Regions from separate parts of the Homo sapiens genome. Here region 1 is linked to region 2. Evidence: fine-mapped expression QTL. A gene starts in region 2. The other region holds a variant in brackets. All regions are shown on one strand. Distances are between the middles of the regions. Region 1 overlaps FAM227B (family with sequence similarity 227 member B). Region 2 holds the start of FAM227B (family with sequence similarity 227 member B).

Region 1 (8,000 bases), 120 kb after region 2:
CCTACTCTTTGGGAAGTTATTCTTTAGTTAATCTGATTCTAGAATTATTTAATTAGTTAATTATTCTTCTTCAGATCTGAGAATTTTGAATTTAGAGCATCACTATTTTAACTGTGGTTTTCTATATTCTTATCGCAGTATATATCATCCAATATGATTTCTATCTTTTATTAGTTACAGGAAATTTTCTTGTTTGCTGTCATCCTCAGTGTTTTACCAAAACTTCGTATATATTGTTATGGGGGGTGGGGGGCTATTTCTAGGGATTTCTGATAGAAAGAGTAATAGTCTACTATCTTGAGCCAATTTTGTTTATCTGTTTTGACTTCTCACCCTCACATATGAATAACTAAATTGAGAGTATTTTGTGAACTTTCCATTTTCTTTTTAAGTAACAGAAAAGTGGTAAGAATAGCATTAACAACTCCCATATATCCTTTACCTACCAATTATTTATATTTTGCTTGTTCTTTAAATCATTCTCTTTCTTCTTTTTTCACATAAGCAATTAAAGATTAAATTTCCCTAAGCACTGCTTTAAGTGTGTTGTATTTAGATATGTTGTATTTTATCACTTAATTAAAAATTTTCTAACATTTACTGTAATTCCTACTTTGACCCATTAGTAGGTCAAAGTAGGGTTATTTAGAAAAGTATTGTTTAATTTCCAAATGTTTGGGACCTTTCTAGATATCTTAAAATTACTGATGTCTAATTAAAAAAAAACTACTGTGGTCTGAGGGCATACTCTGTATGATCTTTTGCAACGTGTTGAGACTTGTTTTATGGTTCAGAATGTGGTCTGTCTTGGTGAACATTCCATGTACACTTGAGAAGAATGTATATCTGCAGTTAAAAAAAATCTCAATTAGATCAAGGTGGCTAATAGTATTATTCAGATCTTCTGTATCAAGTCAGCTAACTGTAGCCTGTGGATTAAATCTGGTGTGTAGCATGTTTTTATACATTCTATGAACTTAGAATGGTTTTTGCATTTTTAAGGGTTGTAAAAAACAAAAACGTAAAACAAAATAAAGAATATGTGACAGAGACTACATTGGCCTGAAAATCCTACAATACTGACTTGCTTTTTATAGAAAAATTTTGCTCACCCTAGTTCTATATCTTTATTGATATTTTATTTAGTTCTATTAATTACTCAGAGGGGATATTAAAATATAATTTTAGAATTATCTATTTCTCCCTTTAATGTTATTGATTTTTGCTGTATCCATTTTTAAATTATTGAGCAAATATACTTTTATTAGGTTTTTCCTTTAACCATTATAAAATGTTCCTTTGTAGCTGTGATAATTCTCTTTTTTTGAGTTCATTTTGTTTAATCTTAATATAGACACTTCAGTTTTCCTATGCTTATGGTTCACATCGTATCTTTTCTCATCATTTTACATATAACTAGTTCATATTCTTATATACTTTTTGTAAACAATCTGTAGTTGAGTCTTGTTTTTTTATTCAGGATGACAATCTCTTCACTTTAATTTGAAGTGTTACTTCACTTACATTTAATGTAATTATTGATATGATTAATCTTATTTCTACTAGTTTCTATTTGTTTTGAGATTTATCCCATCTGTTCTTTGTTTTCCCTGTCTTCTTTTGGTTAATTGAATATTTTTGTCATTCTATTTTAATTCCTCTATTGGCTATTTACCTATACCACTTTTGTATTTTTTGAGGCTGCTTTAATGCTTGCAAAATGCATTCTTAAATTATCAAAATACTATCTAAAGTTAATATTGTCCTACTTAACTTAAAATGTAGGACCTTGGAGCAGTATAGTTACATATACACCCCCGTGTCTTTTTTGCTATTGTCAAATATATCTACATAAATAATAGCCTCACATTATATAGTGTCATGACTTTTGTTTCAAATAATTACATGTTTTTTCAGCTTTTTGAGATCTAATTGGTGTACAATAAATTGCATATATTTAAAGTGTAAAATTTGATGAGTTTTGACGTATGTATAAATCTGTAAAACCATTACAACTCGAGGTAAAAAAACATCTATCTCTCTCAAAAGTTCCTTATGCTTTTTTTGTAATTCCTTCTTGCCACCAACCCACAGGCAATCATTTATGTAATTTTTGTCACTATAGGTTAGAATGCAATTTTCTAGAAGTTTACATAAATGAAATTATATAGAGTGCATGCTGTTTTTCAACTAACATTTTTTATTCCACATAATTATTCTGAGATTCATTCATGTTGTTACATGTATTAATAATCTCTTCCTTTGTATTGCTGAATAGTAGTCCTCCATAGTAGGAATATAATATGATTTGTTTATCCATTCATCTTTTGGTGGCTATTTGTATTGTTCTCAGTATTTGGCTATTATAAATACAGCTGCTATGAACATTTATATACAAGTATTTGTTCGGATATAGGATTTTATTTCTCTTTGATAAACATCTAGTAGTGGGATGACAGAGCAGCATGGTTATGTAACGTATTAGGTCATTCTTGCATTGCTATAAATAAATATCTGAACCTGGGTAATTTAGGAAAAAAGAGGCTCAATTGGCTCATGGTTCTGCAGGCTTTACAGAAAGCATGGTGTTGGTATCTGCTCAGCTTCTAGGAAGGCCTCAGGAAGTTTACAGTCATGGCAGAAAGCAAAGGGGGAGCAGGCACATCACATGGTGAAAGAAGCAGCAAGTGAGAGAAAGTGGAAGGGAGGTGCCACACACTTTTTTTTTTTAAACTTTAACATGCACATGAATGACCTTTATTTTATTAAAAGTTTCTGTTCAGTGGGTCTAGGGTGGGACCTGGGATTTTGCATTTCTAGCAGGCTTCAGGGAACGCGAGTGGTGCTAGTTCCACACACTTTGAGTAACAAAGTTATGAACAATATATATCTGATCTTTTCTTTTTTTTTATTATACTTTAAGTTTTAGGGTACATGTGCACAACGTGCAGGTTTGTTACATATGTATACATGTGCCATGTTGGTGTGCTGCACCCATTAACTCGTCATTTACATTGGGTATGTCTCCTAATGCTATCCCTCCCCCCTCCCCCCACCCCACAACAGGCCCCGGGGTGTGATGTTCCCCTTCCTGTGTCCAAGTGTTCTCATTGTTCAATTCCCACCTATGAGTGAGAACATGCAGTGTTTGGTTTTTTGTCCTTGCGATAGTTTGCTGAGAATGATGGTTTCCGTCTTCATCCATGTCCCTACAAAGGACATGAACTGATCATTTTTTATGGCTGCATAGTATTCCATGGTGTATATGTGCCACATTTTCTTAATCCAGTCTATCATTGTTGGACATTTGGCTTGGCTCCAAGTCTTTGCTATTGTGAATAGTGCCGCAATAAACATACGTGTGCATGTGTCTTTATAGCAGCATGATTTATAATCCTTTGGGTATATACCCAGTAATGGGATGGCTGGGTCAAATGGTATTTCCAGTTCTAGGTCCCTGAGGAATCGCCACACTGACTTCCACAATGGTTGAACTAGTTTACAGTCCCACCAACAGTGTAAACGTGTTTCTATTTCTCCATATCCTCTCTAGCACCTGTTGTTTCCTGACTTTTTAATGATCACCATTCTAACTGGTGTGAGATGGTATCTCATTGTGGTTTTGATTTGCATTTCTCTGGTGGCCAGTGATGATGAGCATTTTTTCATGTGTCTTTTGGCTGCATAAATGTCTTCTTTTGCGAAGTGTCTGTTCATATCCTTTGCCCACTTTTTGATGGGGTTGTTTGTTTTTTTCTTGTAAATTTGTTTGAGTTCTTTGTAGAGTCTGGATATTAGCCCTTTGTCAGATGAGTAGATTGCAGAAATTTTCTCCCATTCTGTAGGTTGCCTGTTCACTGTGATGGTAGTTTCTTTGGCTATGCAGAAGCTCTTTAGTTTAATTAGATCTCAATTGTCAATTCTGGCTTTTGTTGCCATTGCTTTTGGTGTTTTAGACATGAAGTCCTTGCCCATGCCTATGTCCTGAATGATATTGCCTAGGTTTTCTTCTAGGGTTTTTATAGTTTTAGGTCTAACGTTTAAGTCTTTAATCCATCTTGAATTAATTTTTTTATAAGGTGTAAGGAAGGGATC[C/G]AGTTTCAGCTTTCTACATATGGCTAGCCAGTTTTCCCAGCACCATTTATTAAACAGGGAATCCTTCCCCCATTTCTTGTTTTTGTCAGGTTTGTCAAAGATCAGATAGTTATAGATGTGTGGCATTATTTCTGAGGGCTCTGTTCTGTTCCATTGATCTATATCTCTGTTTTGGTACCAGGACCATGCTGTTTTGGTTACTGTAGCCTTGTAGTATAGTTTGAAGTCAGGTAACGTGATGCCTCCAGCTTTGTTCTTTTGGCTTAGGATTGACTTGGCAATGCGGGGTGCCACACACTTTTAAACAACCAGATTTTGTGTTAACTCAGAGTGAGAGCTTACTTATCACCAAGGGGATGTCCCAAGTCATTCATGAGGGCTCTGCCTTCATGATCCAACCACTTCCCACCAGACCCCACCTCCAACACTGGGGATTACATTTCAACATGAGATTTGTACAGGGACAAATATCCAAACTATATCATTTCACCACTGACCCCTCCCAAATCTTGTCCTTCTCACATTGCAAAATACAATCATGCCTTCCCAACAGTCCCCGAAAATCTTAACTCATTCCAGCATTAACTCAGAGGTCCAAAGTCTCATCTAAAACAAGGCAAGTCTCTTCCGCCTATGAGCCTGTAAGGTCAAAAACAAGTTACTTACTTCCAAAATACGATGGGAGTATAGGCATTGGGTAAACATTGCCATTCCAAAAGGGAGAAATCGGCCAAAAGAAAAGAACTGAAGGCCCAATGCAAGTTCAAACCTGGCAGAGCAGTCATTAAATCTTAAAGCTCCAAAATAACCTCCTTTGACTTTATGTCCCACATCTAGGGCACACTGGTGCAAAGGATGGGCACCAAAGGCCTTGGGCAGCTTCACCCCTGTGGCTTTGTGGGGTTCTGCCTCCACAGCTGCTCTCACAGGTTATTGAGTGTCTGTGGCTTTTTCAGATTCAGGGTGCAAGCTGCCAGTAGATCTACCGTTCTCGGGTCTGGAGGGCAGTGGCCCCCTTCTCACAGTTCGACTAGGCAGTGCCCCAGTGGGTACTCTGTGTGGGGGCTCTTATCCTACATTTTCCCTCTTTACTGCCGTAATAAAAGTTATCTATGAGGGCTCTGCCCCTGCAGCAGGCTTCTGCTTGGGCAACCAGGCTTTTTCATACATCCTCAAATCTAAGCAGAGGCTGCAAAATGATCTTCACTCTTGCATTCTGTGCACCTACAGGCTTAACACCATGAGGAAGCTGCCAAGTTTTATAGCTTGCATTCTCCAAAGTGGCAGCTCAAGCTGTACCTGGACCTTTTAAAGCCCCAGCTAGAACTGAAGCAGCTGGGATGCACAGAGCAGTGGCCCAAGACTGTGCAGGACAGCAGGTCCCTGGGCCTGACCCATAAAACCATTTAGTCTTCCTAGGCCTCAGGGCCTGTGACTAGAGGACCTGTGTCTTAGATTTCTGGGATGCCTTCAAGGCCTTTTTCCCATTGTCTTGGTTATTAGCACTTGGCTCCCTTTTGTTATGCAAATTTCTCTAGCAAGTCATTGCTACAAAGCCTACTTGAATTATTCTTCCAAAAGAGCCTTTTCTTTCTCTGCCACATGGCTAGGCTGCCAATTTTCTAACCTTTTACGTTATGCTTCCTGTTTAAATATAAGTTCCACATTTATCATTTCTTTGCTCCTGCATCTGAGTGTCGTCTGTTGCAAGCAGCCAGGGTTACATCTTGAATACCCTGTTGCCTAGAAATTTCTTCCACCAGATACCCTAAATTATCACTCTGAAGTTCAAGCTTTCACAGATCCCTAGGGCAGGGAAACAATGCAGCCAAGTTCTTTGCTAAGGCACAACACAGATGACCTTTGCTCCAGTTCCCAATAAGTTTGTTATTTCCATCTGAGACCTCATCAGCCTGGGCTTCACTGCCCATATCAGTATCAGCATTTTGACCACAACCATTTAACTAGTTTCCAAGAAGTTCTGAACTTTCCCTCATCTTCCTGTCTTCTTCTGAGCCTTCCACACTCTTCCAGCCTCTGCCCATTATGCAATTCCAAATCTGCTTCTGCATTTTCAGGTATCTTTATAGCAATGCCCTACTCCTGGTACCAACTTTCTGTATTAGTTCATGCTTGTGTTGCTATAAAAGAATACCCGTGACCAGGTAATTTACAAGAAAAAGAGGTTTAATTGGCTCATGGTTCTGGATGCTCTACAGGAAGCACGGTGCTGGCATCTGCTCAGCTTCTAGAGAGGCCTTAGGAAGCTTACAATCATGGCAGAAGGTGAAGGGAGAGCAGGCATGTCACATGGCAAAAGCAGGATCAAGCAAGAGGGGGGCAGAGGTGCCACACAATTTTAAACAAGCAGACCTCATATGAACTCAGAGCAAGAGCTCACTTACCACCAAGGGAATGGCCCCAGCCATTCTTGAGGGATCTGCCCCCATGATCCAGCCACCTCCCACCAGGCCCCACATCCAACATTGGGGATTACATTTCAACATGAGATTTGGTTGGGGGTAGATATCCAAACTATATCACGTATGTATAACATTTTAAGAAATTGTCAATCTCTTATCCGAAATTTTACATTTCTACCAGTATACAAGTTATATTTACTTCCTTACTAACACTTGTTATGGTCTTTTTAATTTTAGCTATTCTCGTGAGTTATATACTGGTATTTAGCTAGGTTTTATTTTAATTTCTCTGATGATCAATCATGATGAGCTTCTTTTCATGTGCTTATTTGCCATCCATGTATCTTAAAGCTCCAAAATAACCTCCTTTGACTTTATGTCCCACATCTAGGGCACACTGGTGCAAAGGATGGGCACCAAAGGCCTTGGGCAGCTTCACCCCTGTGGCTTTGTGGGGTTCTGCCCCCACAGCTGCTCTCACAGGTTATTGAGTGCCTGCTGAAGTGTCTGTTCAAATATCTTGGCCATTTTTATTTGAGTTGTTTGTCTTCTTATTGAGTTATAAGAGGTCTTTATATATTTTATGCTTATTTATTTAGTTAGTTCGTTTTTAAAGACAGGATCTTGTTCTGTCACCCAGGCTGGAATACAGTGCCATGATCATAATTCACTGCAGCCTAGAAAAAAGTTATTCATGTATTTAGAAACAGGTCCTTTTTCAGATACATATTTTACAAATATTTTCTCCCAGTATGTTGCTTGCCCTTTCATTTCTTAATAACATCTTTTAAAAAACAAAAGTTTATAATTAGAAGAAACCCATTTATCAATTTTTTAATATAGTTTGTGCTTTTTGCATTCTATTTAATAATATTTGTGAACCCAATTTCACATGGAAATTTTATAGTATGTAGCTTTATAGTTCAGAGTTGTAGCTCTTACTTTTAGGTCTCTAATTCATTTTGAGTAATTTTTCTTAATTATATGTATAAACATTAAGAATCACTTCTTTGCATATTGCTTTAGCACCATTTGTTGAAAAGATTATCCTCTCCTCATCGAATTATCTTGGAAATCAATTGACCATACATATTGGTTTATGTCTGTTCTCTGTATTCTGTTCCACTGATGCCAATAACCAGCTACCTTTAAAACTGTAGTTTTATAATGTATCTTGAAGTTAGGTACTATAAGTCCTCCAAGTTTGCGCTTCTTTTACACAATTATTTTGGTTATTCTAGATTCTTGTCATTTCCATATAAATTTGAAAAACTGCTAGTCAGTTTCTAAAATATATACTCGGGCATCTTTATTTTAAATACATTGTATTGATCAATTTGGGGAGAATTGGTATCTTAACAAAGTGAGTTTGTCAGTTCACAAACATAGAATATGCCTATATTTATATAATACTTCTTTAATTTTTCTCAGCAATGTTTTCTAGTTTTTACTATACAGACACATCTTTTTCCAATTATACAT
Region 2 (16,455 bases):
ACAAATGAATGCACTAATTTTTAATTTTGTTTCTATACTAGCCACACCAACAAATGGCCTCCAAGAGACCAAAAGGCTTTTACATGCTTCTTTCAGTACCCAAGGCCTTAATTTTTTGAGACACATTGTAAAATTACTTTTCAGCAAGAAGACCCATAATTTCTCACCAATGTGACAATTGCAACTGGGTGAAAACCAATTAAGAATCTAAAAATGAGCAAGGAAGGCCTCTGAGCAGCCAAAAGAAATGTTATAAAGGCTATGCACTAAAGCTCTTAATTTAGGAGGATTCCTGAATATCCTAACTCAGTCTTTCTTCTTTTAGAGAAATTCCAACAATATTTGTAATCTGGTTTCCCAGTTTGCATCAAATTAGATCATCTATATGTAGCACAAACAGGAGAAGGAGAGGAGAAAAGGTAAAAGCAGGCACAATAGTATTGGCAAGGAGTAAAAACCTGAAGAAATAAGGCAGAAGAGCTATAAAATGCAGAAAGACTCAAAAACGCATAGCAGTCTAGAAACATCTGATCTTTGAAGATATCAATGAAATAAACTGTATATTGTCTAACATTACCTGAGCATAATACTTTACTAAGAAAAATATTAAATTATGTTTGAGTAAGTTCAGAAAGGCAATGGAGGTTAAAATTCATTTTTATATCCAATGTGAAGAGTTATAAAAACTAAGTTGCCTACTTCATGGTCCTTTTCTTCATATTCTGGAATACACGGATACGTGTAAATGTTTACAAATTCAGGTGCTAAGAGTTTTGCATGTATAGCAGTACTTTTGCCATCTGTTTCATTTGGATGTTTAATGATGTCAATCTTCAATGGAAGCTAAAGGTAAAAAAAGCACAAATAAAAAAATATATAAACATTTTAATTTTTATGTTAATAAAAAGGGTCTTTAAAGCTAAATAGGAAGCTCACAATAAACTCCTATAAATATGCATATGGTTTAAAAGATATACCATAATATTAAGAATGGTGATTGTTACAAAACCAACCCAAATTTCTTCCTTGGCATTGTTATTCATGTATTAGGACAACTATTTTCAACTCATTTAACAGAGAATCTTCTCTTAAAGCAAAGCTCCAATGTCATTTTCACTTAAGTTATATTAACTCCAATTCTTTGCATTTCACCATGTGTGCCAAGGACATTTTAATAAATCCTATAAACTTTAGGTTTGCCTATTTTATGCCATTTTATTTTATTTTTATTTATTTATCTTGAGATGGACTCTCACTCTGCCACCCAGGCTGCAGTGCAGTGGTGTGATCTCGGCTCACTGCAACCTCCGTCTCCTGGGTTAAGCAATTCTGCCCCAGCCTCCCAAGTAGCTGGCATTACAGGCACCTGCCACCATGCCCAGCTAATTGTTGTATTTTTTTAGTAGAGACAGGTTTTCACCATGTTGGCCAGGTTGGTCTTGAACTCCTGACCTCAAGCGATCTGCCTGCCTCAGCCTCCCAAAGTGCTGAGATTACCAGTGAGCCACCACACCTGGCCTCTTACGCTATTTTAAAAAGAAATGTAAGTTTGGGCAAAAAGCTTCAGATCTAAAATTCAAGTTGAAATTCTGTTCCTTAGACATACTTTCAAGTCAAAACTGTTATCCTTTGCAGGAAACATCATGATTTTCGGCATCACATTTTCAATAGCACAAATTAAATAATTATCAATTAAAAAATAGTAACAATAGACCTAAGAGGTGTAATCTTTATATCACAAAACTGTCTTCAAAATCATCTTGCCTAACTACTCCCCAATCTTTCTGGCACCAAGAAGGACTGGTTTCGTGGAAGACAATTTTTCCACAGACCAGGGTTTGGGGAGAGGGTTTGGGGATGATTCAAGCACATTACACTTATTGTGCACTTTATTTCTATTATTATTACATTATAATATATAATGAAATAATTATACAACTCACCATAATGTAAAATCAGCAGGATCCCTGAGCTGGTTTTCCTGCAACTTGATGGTCCCATCTAGGACATGGGAGACAGTGACAGATCTTCAGGCATTGGATTCTCCTAAGGAGCATGCAATCTAGGTCCCTTGTATGCACAGTTCACAATAGGGTTCATGCTCCTATGAGAATCTAATGCTGCCGCTGATCTGACAGGAGGCAGAGCTCAGGTGGTAATGCGAGTGATGGGGAGCGGCTGTAAATACAGACGGAAGCTTCGCTTGCTCTCCAGCAGCTCACCTCTTGGTGTGCGGCCTGGTTCCTTAGGACCGGTACTGGTCTGTGGTCTGGGGATTGGGGACCCCTGTTGCCTAAGTATTTCCCTTGAAGTTTCATTATTTGTTATAGATGTTGTCTGTAACATGTCTCTATGCAAAAATAATATTCTCTTGGATTTTGTAAATTATATTTTTCTTATTTCACTTTGGCTTTTTTGGTTTAGCTCTCTTTGTAATGCTTATACAAGTACTGCATTCAGCCATGATTATGAAAAAAATGCCAAATCATATCTCCCTTACTATATATAAGAAACCCTCTGGAGATGTGTTCTTGACTTCAGCTTTTAAATGACCTTTTGTTTTATTTGGTAGTTCCCACCATCTCCAAGTTCCCATCCCATGCTAAATAAGTAGGATTCTAGGAATTTACCCTGGGCACACTATTTTACCCTGGAGGACAAAACTATTTTTCTTATGTCTTAAACTGTACATATTTAAAGTGTACAATCTAATAAGTTTTAACATATGTTAAATTCTTGAATCCACTGCTACAGTCAAAATAATGATTTGCCACTATCAAAAGTCTTCTCAAGCCCTTCTTCCTTCTCCTCTCACCATCAACAATTGCCCTCCTCAGGCAATCAGTAATCCACTGCCACTATAGTTTGTACTTTCTAGAATTTTATATAAATGAAATCATACAATATACCCTCTTCATTTGACTTTAGCTAAGAATAATTATTTTGAGGTTCTTCCATGTTGTGTGTGTGTGTGTGTCATTAGTTCCAAAACTATTTTTGAATGGAGCAGCTACTAAATAATTTCAATTTCAAATTTTTTTCTTCCTGGACAATTATGTTGGGGACAGAACAGTATAAATAATACACCCCTGGAGGACCTTGGCCTACAAATGAATTCCTCAAATAGTTTTCAATTAGGGTTTCAAATGCTGTATCTCCTACCCTCCCCGCTTAGGCCTAGCAATCATTTATAAGTTAGGCCCAATGATCATTTATAAGTTAGGCCCAATTGCTTCTAATCATCAAACCAACTTCTAGTTATGGAAAATTTACCATTTAAGTAGGCAGTTCACAAATGATTTTACATCAGTCTACTTCTGGCTGAACACTACATCAGAGTTTCCTCATGACGCTCGGTCTCAGTTGAAACTACCTTCCCTCTCCCTAGGGTCTCTGAGCACCACATCAGTATTATCTTAGCCCAGGGAAGGTAGGAAGTAAGAAAAGAAAAAAAAGCAGATCATGACAAGAAAAGAAAAAGAAAGCAGATCATAAATGTGAACTTCTTATATGGCTGATGAGTAAAGCTGAAAATTCCAAAAGTTATCAATATTTCTGATCAGCTAGCTATCTTGGAGGGTATCATTTATATCAAGAACACAGGAGTGTTATTGACAAATTTTATAAATCATGTGCCTAGCCTATTTTTTTAATTATATGATAAAAGAAAAAGCTTTATGAACTAAAGTCTGCAAGCATAATTATGCAAAACCTGTACACAATCCAAGGTATTGTTAGTTTTCCATGAGCGTGAGATCTCTCACATCATAAAACCAAAGCACAGAAACAGATCAAATCATGGAAATCCATGTTTGTGTTCTAGTTCACACATGTTAAAAGAAGATTATTTCTTAAATAATGACAAGAGTACAGAGTAACAAAATAGTGTTGACCACACAGGAACAGAAAACCAAACAACGCATGTTCTCACTCATAAGTGGGAGTTGAACAAGGAGAACACATGGACACAGGGAGGGGAACATCACACACTGGAGCCCGTCTGGGGGTGGGGAGCTAGGGGAGGGATAGCATTAGGAGCAATACCTAATGTAGATGATGGGTGCAGCAAACTACCAGGGCACATGTGTATCAATGTAACAAACCTGCAAGTTCTGCACATGTATCCAAGAACTTAAAGTATAATTAAAAAAGAAAGAAAAAAAATTTGCTTTTTTACAAGCTACAAAAACATTTGCTCTGAGGCTTCGTATGGACATTAAAGCTTAACTGTGTTTAAAAAAAAAAAATAGTGTTGACCAGAGGGCAGTCTGAGTAGAGACATTCTGTTTTCAAACAAGTAAAGAATATCAATCTGCTCTCGAACACTTATGTTTTATAAAAGAGACTTACCACAAATCCTTCTGCCCAAGTTTATCAAAATGCTACTGACAAGGAGACCTAAGCATTTTCCCATGGGATTATCAACTTTCCCCAAGAGAGCCTTTTAAATTCTAGGCTCTAAATGCCTATGGCCTAGCGAAGTGTAACCATTGTAACATTGCACCACAGTGCAGTACTTATATGCTTGTGATGATGCTGATGTAAACAAACTTACTGCACTGCCAGTCATATAAAAGCATGCTATACAATAATGTTTAATAATGATAATATAAATCTGTTACTGGTTTATATATTTGCTATACTACACTTAATTTTTTTAGTTTTAGAGTACACTCATCCTAATTAGAAAAAAGAAATGTTAACTGTAAAATAGCCTCAGGCAGGTCCTTAAGGAGGTATTCCAGAAGAAGGCATTGCTATCATAGGAGATGACAGCTCCATACATTACCCCTGAAGAGCTTCCAGTGGGACAAGATGTGGAGGTGGAAGAAGACAGTGATACTGATGATCCTGACACTGTGTAAGCCTAGGGTAACGTGTTTGTGTCTTGGTTTTCAACAAAAAAAGTTTAAAAAGTAAAAATAAATAAATAATAAAAATAGGAATAAGGTTACAGAATAAGAGCATAAAGAAATATTTTTGTTCAGCTGTGCAATGTGTTTGTGTTTAAATGTAAGTGTTATCACAAGTTTTTTAAAAAGTTTATAAAGTAAAAAAGTCACAGTAAGCTAATTTATTATTGAAGAAAAATATTTTTCATAAATGTAGTGTACCCTAAGTATACAGTGTTTATAAAAACTACAGTAGTGTACAGTAACATCACAGGCCTTCACATTCACTCACAAGTCACCACTGACTCACCAAGAAAAACTTCCAGTCCTGCAAATTCCATTCATGCTAAGTGCCCATAAAGGATTACTATTTTTATACTGTACTTCTACTGTACTTTTCTATGCTTATATTTGTTTAGATACACTAATACCATTGTGTGTACAACTGTGTACAGTATGCAGTACAATAACATGCTGTACAGATTTTGTAGGCTAGGAGCAATAGGTATTGCCCAGGTGTATAGTAGGCTATACTATGAAGGTTGTGTAAGTACATTCTATTATGTTTGCACAACAGTGAATTTGCCTAACGACTCATTTCTCAGGACACATTTCTCAGGATGTATCCCTGTCATTAGGAGACATATGACTATATTTATGAATGCATTCCCTAGACTAAAATTGGGAGGGAATTACTCATTATATTGTCATCCTCCTTTCCCAAGTAGGCTATCTAAAAGCAAATGCTGAATGATTTGTTAAAATAAAAATAAAGTAAAAATTGGAAAGGACATTTTGTAGAGCTGTTATTACCATTAATGTATATTAAAGTATCAAATTTTATACAAGGCCATTAAAATATAAACACTTTAGAAAACTCTGCACAGTCCAGACCATTGAGAGATGATCAAACACTAATGTCTTGAGTCATTTCTATTAAATGGTGTATATTAGACCACTGATTTGGAAAATACCCTCTATTATTAAATATCTATGAAAATATCAGCCCTGTAACTATATTACTGATTATTATTATTATAATATGCAATCCATTTTTTAATACAATACACCTTAGGATAAAACTTTTAATGGAATCCCTTCTTTACATGGCTATGAGAGAAATGTAAAATAGAATAATTCTACGTATACTTCAAAAACCATACTTCAAAATGTAACATTCCTGTAAGATAATGGGAAACTTGAAAATAATTATTACCCTCAAGTTCTTGTTTTTTCGGAGCAAACTGTGAAGATCATATTAAATTCCACACTTACTTATTCTTGGCTAGTAAACTTTCCATTAGCCTATACATGTGATTTTAGATGCTGAGGAGACCATGGACTGGCCAAGATGATATAGGCTAAACTGAAATTCAAATAAAATATGAGTGTCAAAGTACTCTTCTTACTTCAAATTCAAATGAACTTTAAAATCATCAAAACAAATTTTAAAATATAGCTACAACTTATTTTTTTTTTACTGGCAAGTTCTAATGAGTCCATGTGTAGAATTTAGTCTCTCTAAAGTCTTACACAGTCAAATTTTATACATTAATTGATTTATTCCTAAAGTTTGGGATAATGTTAGACAAGTTAACATATATATAATAAATTCTTTGATTATGTAGACATGACGTTCTACAGACCTTTTACCTATACAAAAGTAGTGTTGGTGAGCCCAAAAAGTATAAAGGTAAGCAATCAAATCGGGCTTAAAATCACTCTAATGATAACACAGCCCAGGGAATTGGTCTTAGTTTTTAAATTTTACTTTATTTTCATTTTGGTCAATGAAATCTGCTCCATCCCCATGTATAGGATAAGTCACAAAATCTTAGGTGAAAATCAACTCTAATTCTACTAGAATAGTATTTTCTCAAGGAGCAGTCCAAAGACATGAGTGTTTGGAGCTCCTTCAGGGTGTCTATAAACTTTTTTTTTAGTATTCATAAGTTTATATCACACATTTTTTCCCATGTTGTAAATAAATTAAAATCATTAATGAAAAATTAATTGGTTTCATTAAAAACACCATTTCAGACCCAGAGACAAGAAAAACAAAGAGGTTTAGTGGTCTGTAGGGCTAAATTTTCCATAAATACACTTGGTTTTCATGCTAGGAATGATAAATTCCTCTTCAAAATGTTTAATTGTGTGATGTTCTTATTCTTTGTTCAGAAGCCCAAGCTCCTTGTACTCTCGTTTCCAGCCTGCAAACAACCCTCCCACTCTTGTTGTGCCCTGACATGGCCAAACATGTCCAGACATGCCTTATACTATAGTGGACAGACCACTCCTAACCCCTCCTTTTACAAATCGTGCATTTACCCTATTTGGAAAATTTTAAGTCTTAGCCAACTGGAATCAGTTTTGATTGTGTGGTCCAACCCTAGCCAATAAGGGAAGGACACAGGGACAGGAACTGCATTAGGGTTAAAAATCCCTTCCTTCCTTTGTTCGGTGTGCTCTTGCGATCAGGCGCAGCACCCTTCTGCAGAAGTAAATGTGCCCTGCTGAGAAATTTTCTGTCTAAGTGCTAGTTTTTCTTTGCAGCAACAAGCACTTGTTTCTAACAATAATAACATTATTTATTAAGTTTATCAATTAGAGTAGGTATACATGAGATGTTTTTAAAAAATCTATTTTCATACTTTCAAACAATTAAATTTCTTACTAACCTTCACAAGTGGAATCTGTTCAATAGGTACATTTTCAACTGGAACATAACATGTATAGCAGTAGAACATTCTGGAACCACCACATTTGAGACATTTTGATCTCCCACTTTGCTGAGCTTTTTGAAGAACTTCTTGAGATGCTAAACATAAGTTTTGAAGGGGATCTTCTGAAGCTATGGAAGTAGTTTGTGACTGTTTTGTTTCCACAAATTTTGAACTATTTTCTTCACTTCGTTTGAGAAATATAGGTGGATTGAGAGACATTCTTCATTCAAACCAAAGTTTAACGGCTATTTCTAAAACACATATCATAGGTGCACTGTAAAAAAAAAGTATCAAGAGAAGGAAAAATAAAAACAGAAAACATTTTACTCAGTCTACAAAGAAAATTACTCAATTTAAGTCACAATTGTGTGCTGTTTTAGTACTTATTAAACATGTTTTAAACCACCAAATTGGCACACTTTAAAACATAAGATTAAAAGCAATAAACTGAAAGTTATTTCAAATATAAAGTTCAGGTACTGAGAATCCATTTTTCAAGAACCCTTTTTTGTTCCAGAGATGGCAGTTTTGTTTTCCAGATATTAGGAATGCAATGGTTTCACGTTAGCATCAGACAGGGATATATTCAACCCTGTTGGCTCTGACTTTGAATTGACATTAATGAAAAATAGAAGATTCTAGTGGAATTGGCAAAATTTAGTTGGTTATGTTCTAAAAGATATAACCCTCTCCAACTTAAACACACACTACATATGTGTGAGTGTGTCTGTGTACATGTGTGCATATACATATAAAACTTCATATCCAATAAAAAATAAGAGGCATCTACTACTCATTACAATTTGTAAAATATCCCATAAGGTAAAATATATTATCCTATAAATTTTAAAAATTTACAGAGTAACATTAATGTCCACTTACTCTAAGAATTTATGTTTTTTAAAAACATACATCATTCAGATTCTTTAGTACTAGAGAAAAATGGTAAAATAACTTTCCCACTTAATATTTTCTTCAAAGAAGGGTGATGGCTGCCAAAATTGCTATCTGTATACCCTGTAAGGAAGATATCTTTCAAGGGAGAAACAACACTGGTGCCCTATTGATTCGATATGCATTCCACAGCTGTAAAATAATTCTCTTATTATAAAGCCTTCTGGCATTGTGGTTTAACTACGAAGCTCCAGGCACTTTAAGTAGAAACAGGGACAAGAGAAATGCTGTGACTCCAGCAGGAAACATTTTGTGGTCTCCCAAACAGAAAGTGAACAAAAAGTCCAGAGAAACATAAAATACAACATAATTTGCTGAGAAGAAGTTAGTGGCACTAATTTAATTACTCATCAAATGAATTTTTCTTTTTCTTTTTTTTTTTAAGATTGTAAGTCCCAGTGAGTTTGAGATACAAATAAAGAGATACAAAAACGCCGGTTATAGTAGAAAAAGGCACTTGCCAAATGTACCCAAGGGGAAAAACAAAATACAGTAAATATTTTTGCTGTGTACTGATTACGCACAGATTTGCATTTTGGGTAAGAAAGCAGTATTTAAGAACAATGGTCCAATCCCTTGTTCCTGCCTCACAAATAGAAAATCTTACCTACTTCTGACTGCCACTCCAACTCACCTGCCTAAAAATGGCTTTGATCTTTGTGATCATGCCCTCAATGACTGAAAGTGCAGGATATTAAGATGCCCTCTTTTCTTGAGCCTCAGATTCTTTTAGGAATCACATGAAAATATTAAACCGCATCCCTAGAAAATGCATATACAGACACAATATTTTGCACACAATTTCAGGAGGTTTGGAGATCTCCTAGAGTCCATCTACGACCCAGGTAAGGAAGTTCCAAGCTTGGGAAGGGCCACGCATGGTGGCTCATGCCTATAATACTAGCATTTGGGAGGTTAAGGTGGGAGGATTACTTGAGCACAAGAGTTTGAGAACAGTCTGGACAACAAAGTGAGATCCCATCTCTAAAACAGAGAAAAAAAAAAAGCTTGGGAAGAGATCCTAATAGTCCCCAGAAATGAGAGTTGCAAATGCTCTGTTGGCGTCTCTTTGCTGCACATACGAAGCTAAGTTTCACCTAAACTCTCTTTGGGTTTGTCCTGGTGTTGCCTGAGGTTCTTACAGAGAAACATTTTGAGGCTTTAATAGTCCTGAGTTATTCAGATGATGGGATTCATCCTAAAAAATGAAATTTGATTGGAGTAGCTCAACCTGACTTCATTTCCCTGGGTAATGGAGTAGCTATTTAGTGGGAATGCATGTACCACTCAAAGGCCCAGGCATAGTGGGACTGAAAAATGTAGTTCCTGTGGATGTCATGAAAGTTACTGTGGTTGCCTGACATTTAACAGAAAACTACTGGTGAGTTTTTGGAGTTATCCTAGGGCACTGAAAGTGCATTCCTCCTAGAGATACCTCAGAAATATCACTTTGCAGTTCATGGACCTGCTATCCACATAACTAAATGGATATTAGTGAAGCTTTATATAAATAACCTTCCTCTAGAAAAATCAACCACCACAAATACCTGTAAGACAGTAAAAGAGAAATGTTTATGGCTCCACCTCTTAGTTCACCTATATACTCTCACTTATGGCTGAGGTGGCCACGTAGAAGAGGCCAGCAATTGTAAATCATGGGCAGCTCCCTCCAGTGGTCTCTGAAACTACATGATCAGGGCATCTGTCCTAACCGAGCCAACAGCCTGCCTCGACTGTGAGAAAATCATTGCAAATGATTTTATTGCAAATGGGGTTATTTAAAATTTTTAAAACATACTTGTTAACATCAAATATGTGCAAGGAAGTACAATTTGAGTCATGGGGGCTAAAAAGACTTAGAAAACATAAAGACTGTTCCTAAGGAACTAACAATTTTAACACCTTGATGGTGCGTCCATCATTCTGGAACTTAAGGCTAAAAATACATTAATTTTTTATTCCTCCTTCTACCCAATTTCCACCCCAAATTAATTATACTCACCAAGTTGCATCTACCTTGTATATAATCCTCTATCTTCACTCTCAAAGTCAGGATTCTAATTCAGTTCCTTATTAACTCATAGATGGGCCACAGCAATGTCTTAAACCTCTTTGAGTACTTATTATTAGTTCCACATATTTGACATGGAAAAATGCATTTATTGTGGAGGTACTTTAGTGAATCTATCCCCTCCAGCATTCAACTCTGTAAGAGCAGATTCCTTCCCTGATCTCACCTATTCCTGATTCTTATGCAACAGCAGGAACTCAACAAACACTTGTTAACTAAATCAAAACCATTCTGCAAAACACATCCAGTAAGCATCTCACTACTGAAGTATCTGACAAACTACCTTTATGGGCCGTCTGCAGCCTAGCACAAGTGGCAGGCTGGCAATTTTTTTTTCTCCAAAATAATAACAAAAAGCTTCTACCTCTTCCATTATTGTAAGCTGACTCACCTCCCAATGGAACACTATACAGACTCCCCTGTCCTATATTGTGGACCAATTCAGTATTAGAAAAAAACCACTTCCAATTTTCTTTAGAGTGTTTTTAAGAACTTGGTCACATAGGACCTACAGGTCCAACATTCATTTTTCATAATCCAAGGTAGTAGTACCCTTTTTCATATAGGATCAATGGCCTCTCCCACACCACCCGCCATATGGTAACAAACTGTCTTGCCTTCGTTTTCATGGTGCACTGGGTTAGTCCTTACATGCTGCGATCTACAGTATTGATTTTACCATCCAACTTTGTGGGCCTGGCGACTGAAAATGTTAATATACTTCCTTATTTGTCCTACATTCCCAATAAATAATTTAGACGTAAGAAACAGGCTCTTTTGCTTATTATGTAACCACAACCTCAATATTTTAAATACACTGCATGGCATCACTAATTCTACGTCTGTACTACGCTTCCCCTTCCGTGATAACCAAACCCCCACAAACCACTCCAAATACTAAAAATAAAATAAAATAAAGTATGGGGTTCCTAGGGAACTGACTTTGCCAGGACATACTTTTCGTTGGGGCGGAATGCACCGAAAATCATTGGTAGGAAAAATAATTTTTTTTTTGAGGAAAAATTTGGAAACCTTTTTCCCAAAGGGCCCGCAAGATCCTAAAAAAAGCAAGAGACCGCGCAGAAACCGAGGATCCCCCTCACAGGCGACACCCAGCGCGACCTCCGCTAGGGTCCTGACAAAGAATGTCCACTTCCCGCGGCCGCACCTCTGGGGCCAGACCACTGGTCTCCAGAGAGGCGCGGGGACCTCCACCAGGGATCGGAGTGGTACTCAGACCTGCACACCCGCGAGTCCTCGAACAGCTCCACACGTCTCCAGCTCCGCCCGAGCCCGAGCCACGCGCCGGGCCGTGATCGCGCACGGACCAGACGGAGCGCTTTCCGGGAGACACCAGAGGGAGGAGCCAGGCAGTTACTAGCGTCGTTGCTAAGGCAGGGGCCGCGCACACCGCACACCGCGCGGCTTAAGCAACAGGCTGGGACGACAGCGGGGGGGGGGTTAGACGGGAAGTTCCGCCTCAGCCTCTCAATCAGCGGCGGTGTCGCACTTCTCCCGAGAGGCTCCGGCGAGGGGCAGGGCCGCGTTCGTCCGGGACCCGCCTCAAGCCTCGCAGCCTTTCACCCAGTTTCCTCCCGATTCTTGCTGGGACAACAAAATTGGGAAGCGGTTCTCGAAACATACTGTCAAGGCGTAGTTGCAGTGAGTTGTGAAGAAATGTTGATCCCAGAGAAAAGTTTGCATTTTGCCCACCTCAAAGATATTTTGATTGTGAGAACTTGGTTACATTAGTCTTTCGTGGCTATATCAATATCATTATTTCGTGTGCTGTGTGGTAATGAAAGCTATTAGAAAAATCATTTGTATCTTAATGATTTAGTTTGCATAAAAACACGCATATAGAGTTAAGAGTACTTTGTGTTTTTCCACTTTGAAGTATAATATGTGGATAAGTTATTAGAACATTTGTCCGTGCCTCTCCCCAAACAATGCGCAAACGGAAGTGCACTCTAACAACTAAGATTTTAAAACACAATGGTCAAATGTTGAGCAATGTTTTATTGACTACTCTGAATTTATCAAGTGGTAGATAAAGGACATTACAATGCCCTAGAAGTGCTCACGATATCAAGTAAAGCATGTTAAATTCAAGTACAGAAAATGCAATATTCTTACTACTGAGATAAAAAATGGAATTTAATAAATTACAGGAATTTCAAGAAAGCTGAGAATGGAGTGGTCAATAAAGGCTTCTTTTTCGGACTTGGGTAAGGCCTTGAAGAATGATTTAGGTTTAGGACAGTGTTTTTCAACTGGAAAGGGGATTGTGTGGGACCCATTAGTGGAGGTCTTGACCCATTTGTAAGCAAGGAAATCTCTTTAAACTTAAAAAAAAGAAACAATATAGATTGGAAATATCAGCGCATGTAAGTAAATTTAGTGTTAGTTAGTAAAGTACTGCTTTATGGAGCTTTTAATTGTATATATGCGTGTATGTGTGCACTAGGGCTTGTTTGTAAAATGTATTTCTTACTGTATTTCAAACCTTAAAAAGTTTGAAAGCCAGTGATTTAGGGAGAAAGGTGAATTTTCTGGGTAGGGAAAGTAGAATAGCAAAGTCTATAAGCCAAGAAGAATTCACAACCATTTTCCTTTTTAGTTTAACTCTAAATTTTATCAAAGTAGTTAAATTGCACAGATTAAAAAGCAAATAATACTACTTGTTAGATTGAGCATTGGGTTGCTATCGTATGTAATAAATTACTCCAAAATATGGTGGCTTAAAACAACCATTTTATTATGTTCACAGGTGGTGTTGTCAATAGGGCATAGTCATCAGCTTTTCTTTGGTAACTCAATTAGAAAGACTAGAGTGGGCATGCTAGCAGAGCTTCTGTAACTATATGGCCGGGGTTTCCTCACAGTATGGCAGCAAGGTAGTCAGACTTCTTAGCTTAAACTCAGAGCTCCAAAGGGAGTGTTGCAATGAACAAGGCAAAAATTGCCTGACCTTTTCTGACCTTGCCTCAAAAAGTAACGCGGTGCTACTTCCCCCACTTTCTTTTGCTTACAAATGTGTCAAAGTCCTGTTCCATTTTAGGAAAGGAGACATAGATCCCTCTTCTCAAAGGATTGGCAAAGATTTCTTGTCCATGTTTTAAAACCAGCATAGTGAATTTACTTCTGTAACAGAAAACCCCAAAATATCGGTGGTTTAATACACTTTTTTTTTTCCTCACAAAAGATCCATTGTGGCTATTTCTAGGCAGACGAAATGTTAAATTCAAGGCCAGATGTTTTTATTTTTAATGGTTCTGCTGCCTTCTAGGACTAGCTTGTTTGACAAGAAAGAAAGTATGGCAAATTACCCAAGGTTAACTCTAAAAATGACATGTATCAATTTGGCCACATTCTGTTGGCCAGAATTTAGTCCCAAGGCCCCCACTTTAACTGCCGGGGATCCTGAGAAATGTAGAGAAACACACACATATTGGTGAGCACTAACAGTTTGCCACATTCTAGGTTAAAGAAAACCCTGTAGTACCCAACCCTTCTACTCTATTCTCAATTCTTCTCACCAAAGGAAAATTCAAGTCTTTTAAATATTTCATCTGTTACCCCCATGTCTAAATATACTTACATTGCAGTTTCTTGATTTTCCAATTTCAGACATTACCCACTGACTTTCTCCTGTGGAAGGCAGTGATAAAGGTCTTTTGTAACAACACCACCTCCAAGTGTGTGAACATTCCCTCTCTACCTCATACACTCTTCTTGTCCCTTCACCTGTCAATAGTGATATCATAGGCTTTGGCTAAATCAACATTTAGTGTTATCACTACTGTCTAGGTAAATGTCATTCAACCCCAAGGCACATAGTATACTAAGATCGCATTAACTTTTAATACAACTTTTTACTTTCCTTTCTCTTAACTGCCATTTTTAATGTATTATTTATCTGTTCTCAAACACTGGCAAACTGCTAAAGCATCACAGTGAAATACATCAGTTAATCCAGTAGATTTTTTTTCCTTACAGATACTCTTCCTACAGCGTTACAGCCTTTAGTTTATTTAGGATTGCTGGTTTCTCCAACATAATACTGCTCTCCTGTGTGTTAGATCCCTTGTTTCCTTTTTCTTTGTTTAATCCCTTTTTAAAAATGAACTACATTCTCTAATACCTTCTTGGAAAAAGGTAAATAGGAGTGTAGTAGATAGAATAATGGCCCCCAAAGATGTCTATATCCTTACCTCCAGAACCTGTTGATATTTTATATGGCAAAAGGAACTGCATATGTGATTAAGGAGATGGGCTAAATTACCCTGGATTGTCTGGGTGGCTGGACATAATCAAAGAGTTCTTATGAGAGGAAGACAAGATGTCAAGAGAGGGGAGAAGACTCTACACTGCTGGCTTTGAAGATAGAGGGAGGAGCTCTGAGCAAAGGATAGCAGGTGACTGCTAGAAGCCCCTTTTCTCACAAAAAGATCTTCTGGGAGAAAAAATTATGTGTATTAAGCCATTGATATTTTGTGTTTTTTTTGTTACACAAGTAAATTTACTATGCTGGGCGACAAGAGTGAAACTCTGTCACACACACACACACACACACACACACACAAAACATGAAAGGAGCATAGCCCTGCAGACCCATTTCAGATTCCCGACCTCTAGACCTGTGAAATAATAAACTTTGTGATTTTTTAAGCCACTTTGTTAGCTGTTTGTTACAGCAGCAATAAGAAACTAATATGAGATGAATTTTTTTTTAGTATCTTGCAAATCTGAAAAATGCCACACATTTAATTGATGCTCTGTTTATATTTAAATTTACAGATTGAAAGTCATTTTCTGGCATAATCCTCTAAATTATTGTTTTTTTATCCTCTGATTCTTGTTTACTTTAACATTTTTGTTCTAGTTTCTAGAAGATTTCTTCAGCTATTTTTCACTAGACTGTTGTTGAATAATTTATATCATATTTGTACTTTGCATTTTTTCTTATTCTGTATTCATTTATAACATGCAGTTTTGGTTTCAGGGATGCATTATCTTATTATAGCTCTCTATGAGTCTTAAAGACTTTTTTGAAGTTTCCTTCTGTTCCCCACATTGTCTGTATATGCCTAGATTTTATTTTTAGTCACTTGTTTGGATTTCCATTTTTTAAAAATATTTTTTATTTCACAATTAGTCCATAAATAATAATCTTTAGCTTTCTATCCATTTTGAAATACAAGGATTAAAATGGTGATAGAAAGCCTCATGGTGTCTCAACAGGAATTGTCAAGCATTCAGCTTCATAGTAGAGCAAGGTTTATCATTGGAAGTTTCTCAAACATTTAAAGAAGAAAAGGGACTAATAAAGATAAGAATAAATCAATGAAATTAAAAACAAATGTGCACTAAAGAAAAGCAACAAGGCCAAAACTGGTTCTTTGCAAAGATTAATAAAATTGATAAGCCTTTAGATAGACTGACCAAGATAAAGAAAAGTACAAATTTCAGAAATGAAAAATGAAACATCACCACAGACACTACAGATTGCAAAGATAATAGGAGGATATTAAGAATAAATATTTATATCAAAATACTTGACATTTCAATTTTTCTTGAAAGATAATTTACCAAAATTAAGAAGTAATAGAATAGCTGAATGATCCTATATTAATTTTGATAGCTTATATCTGTATTAGTCTACCTAGGATGCTGTAATAGAATACCACAGAGTAGATGACTTAAACAACAGTAGTTTATTTTCTCACAGTTTTAAAGGCCAGAAGTCCAAGACCAAGGTGCCATCAGTGTGAGTTTCTAGTGAGGCCTCTCTTCCTGGCTTGTAGACCACTGC

Evidence for each region. PIP is the estimated chance that this variant, and not a neighbour inherited with it, causes the effect.
Region 1: its variant is fine-mapped to the expression of FAM227B in whole blood (TOPMed, PIP above 0.99). The same link has a PIP of 0.9 or more in fetal neocortex.

What each region holds. Positions count from the first base shown.
Region 1 is chr15:49,499,336-49,507,335 of GRCh38, reverse strand. All of the region lies in intron 11 of FAM227B (family with sequence similarity 227 member B), which reads left to right. Among named protein-coding and RNA genes, the nearest start is that of FGF7, 80 kb to the right of the region's middle. The variant C/G (reference allele first, on the strand shown) is at 4,096.
Region 2 is chr15:49,616,547-49,633,001 of GRCh38, reverse strand. FAM227B (family with sequence similarity 227 member B) reads left to right here and starts at 12,184. Exons shown (of 16, transcript NM_152647.3): 1 at 12,184-12,302. It overlaps DTWD1 (DTW motif tRNA-uridine aminocarboxypropyltransferase 1), which reads right to left and starts at 11,954. Exons shown (of 5, transcript NM_001144955.2): 1 at 11,880-11,954; 2 at 7,571-7,889; 3 at 700-843. The coding sequence starts at 7,834. RefSeq lists enhancers at 6,677-7,876, 11,723-11,842.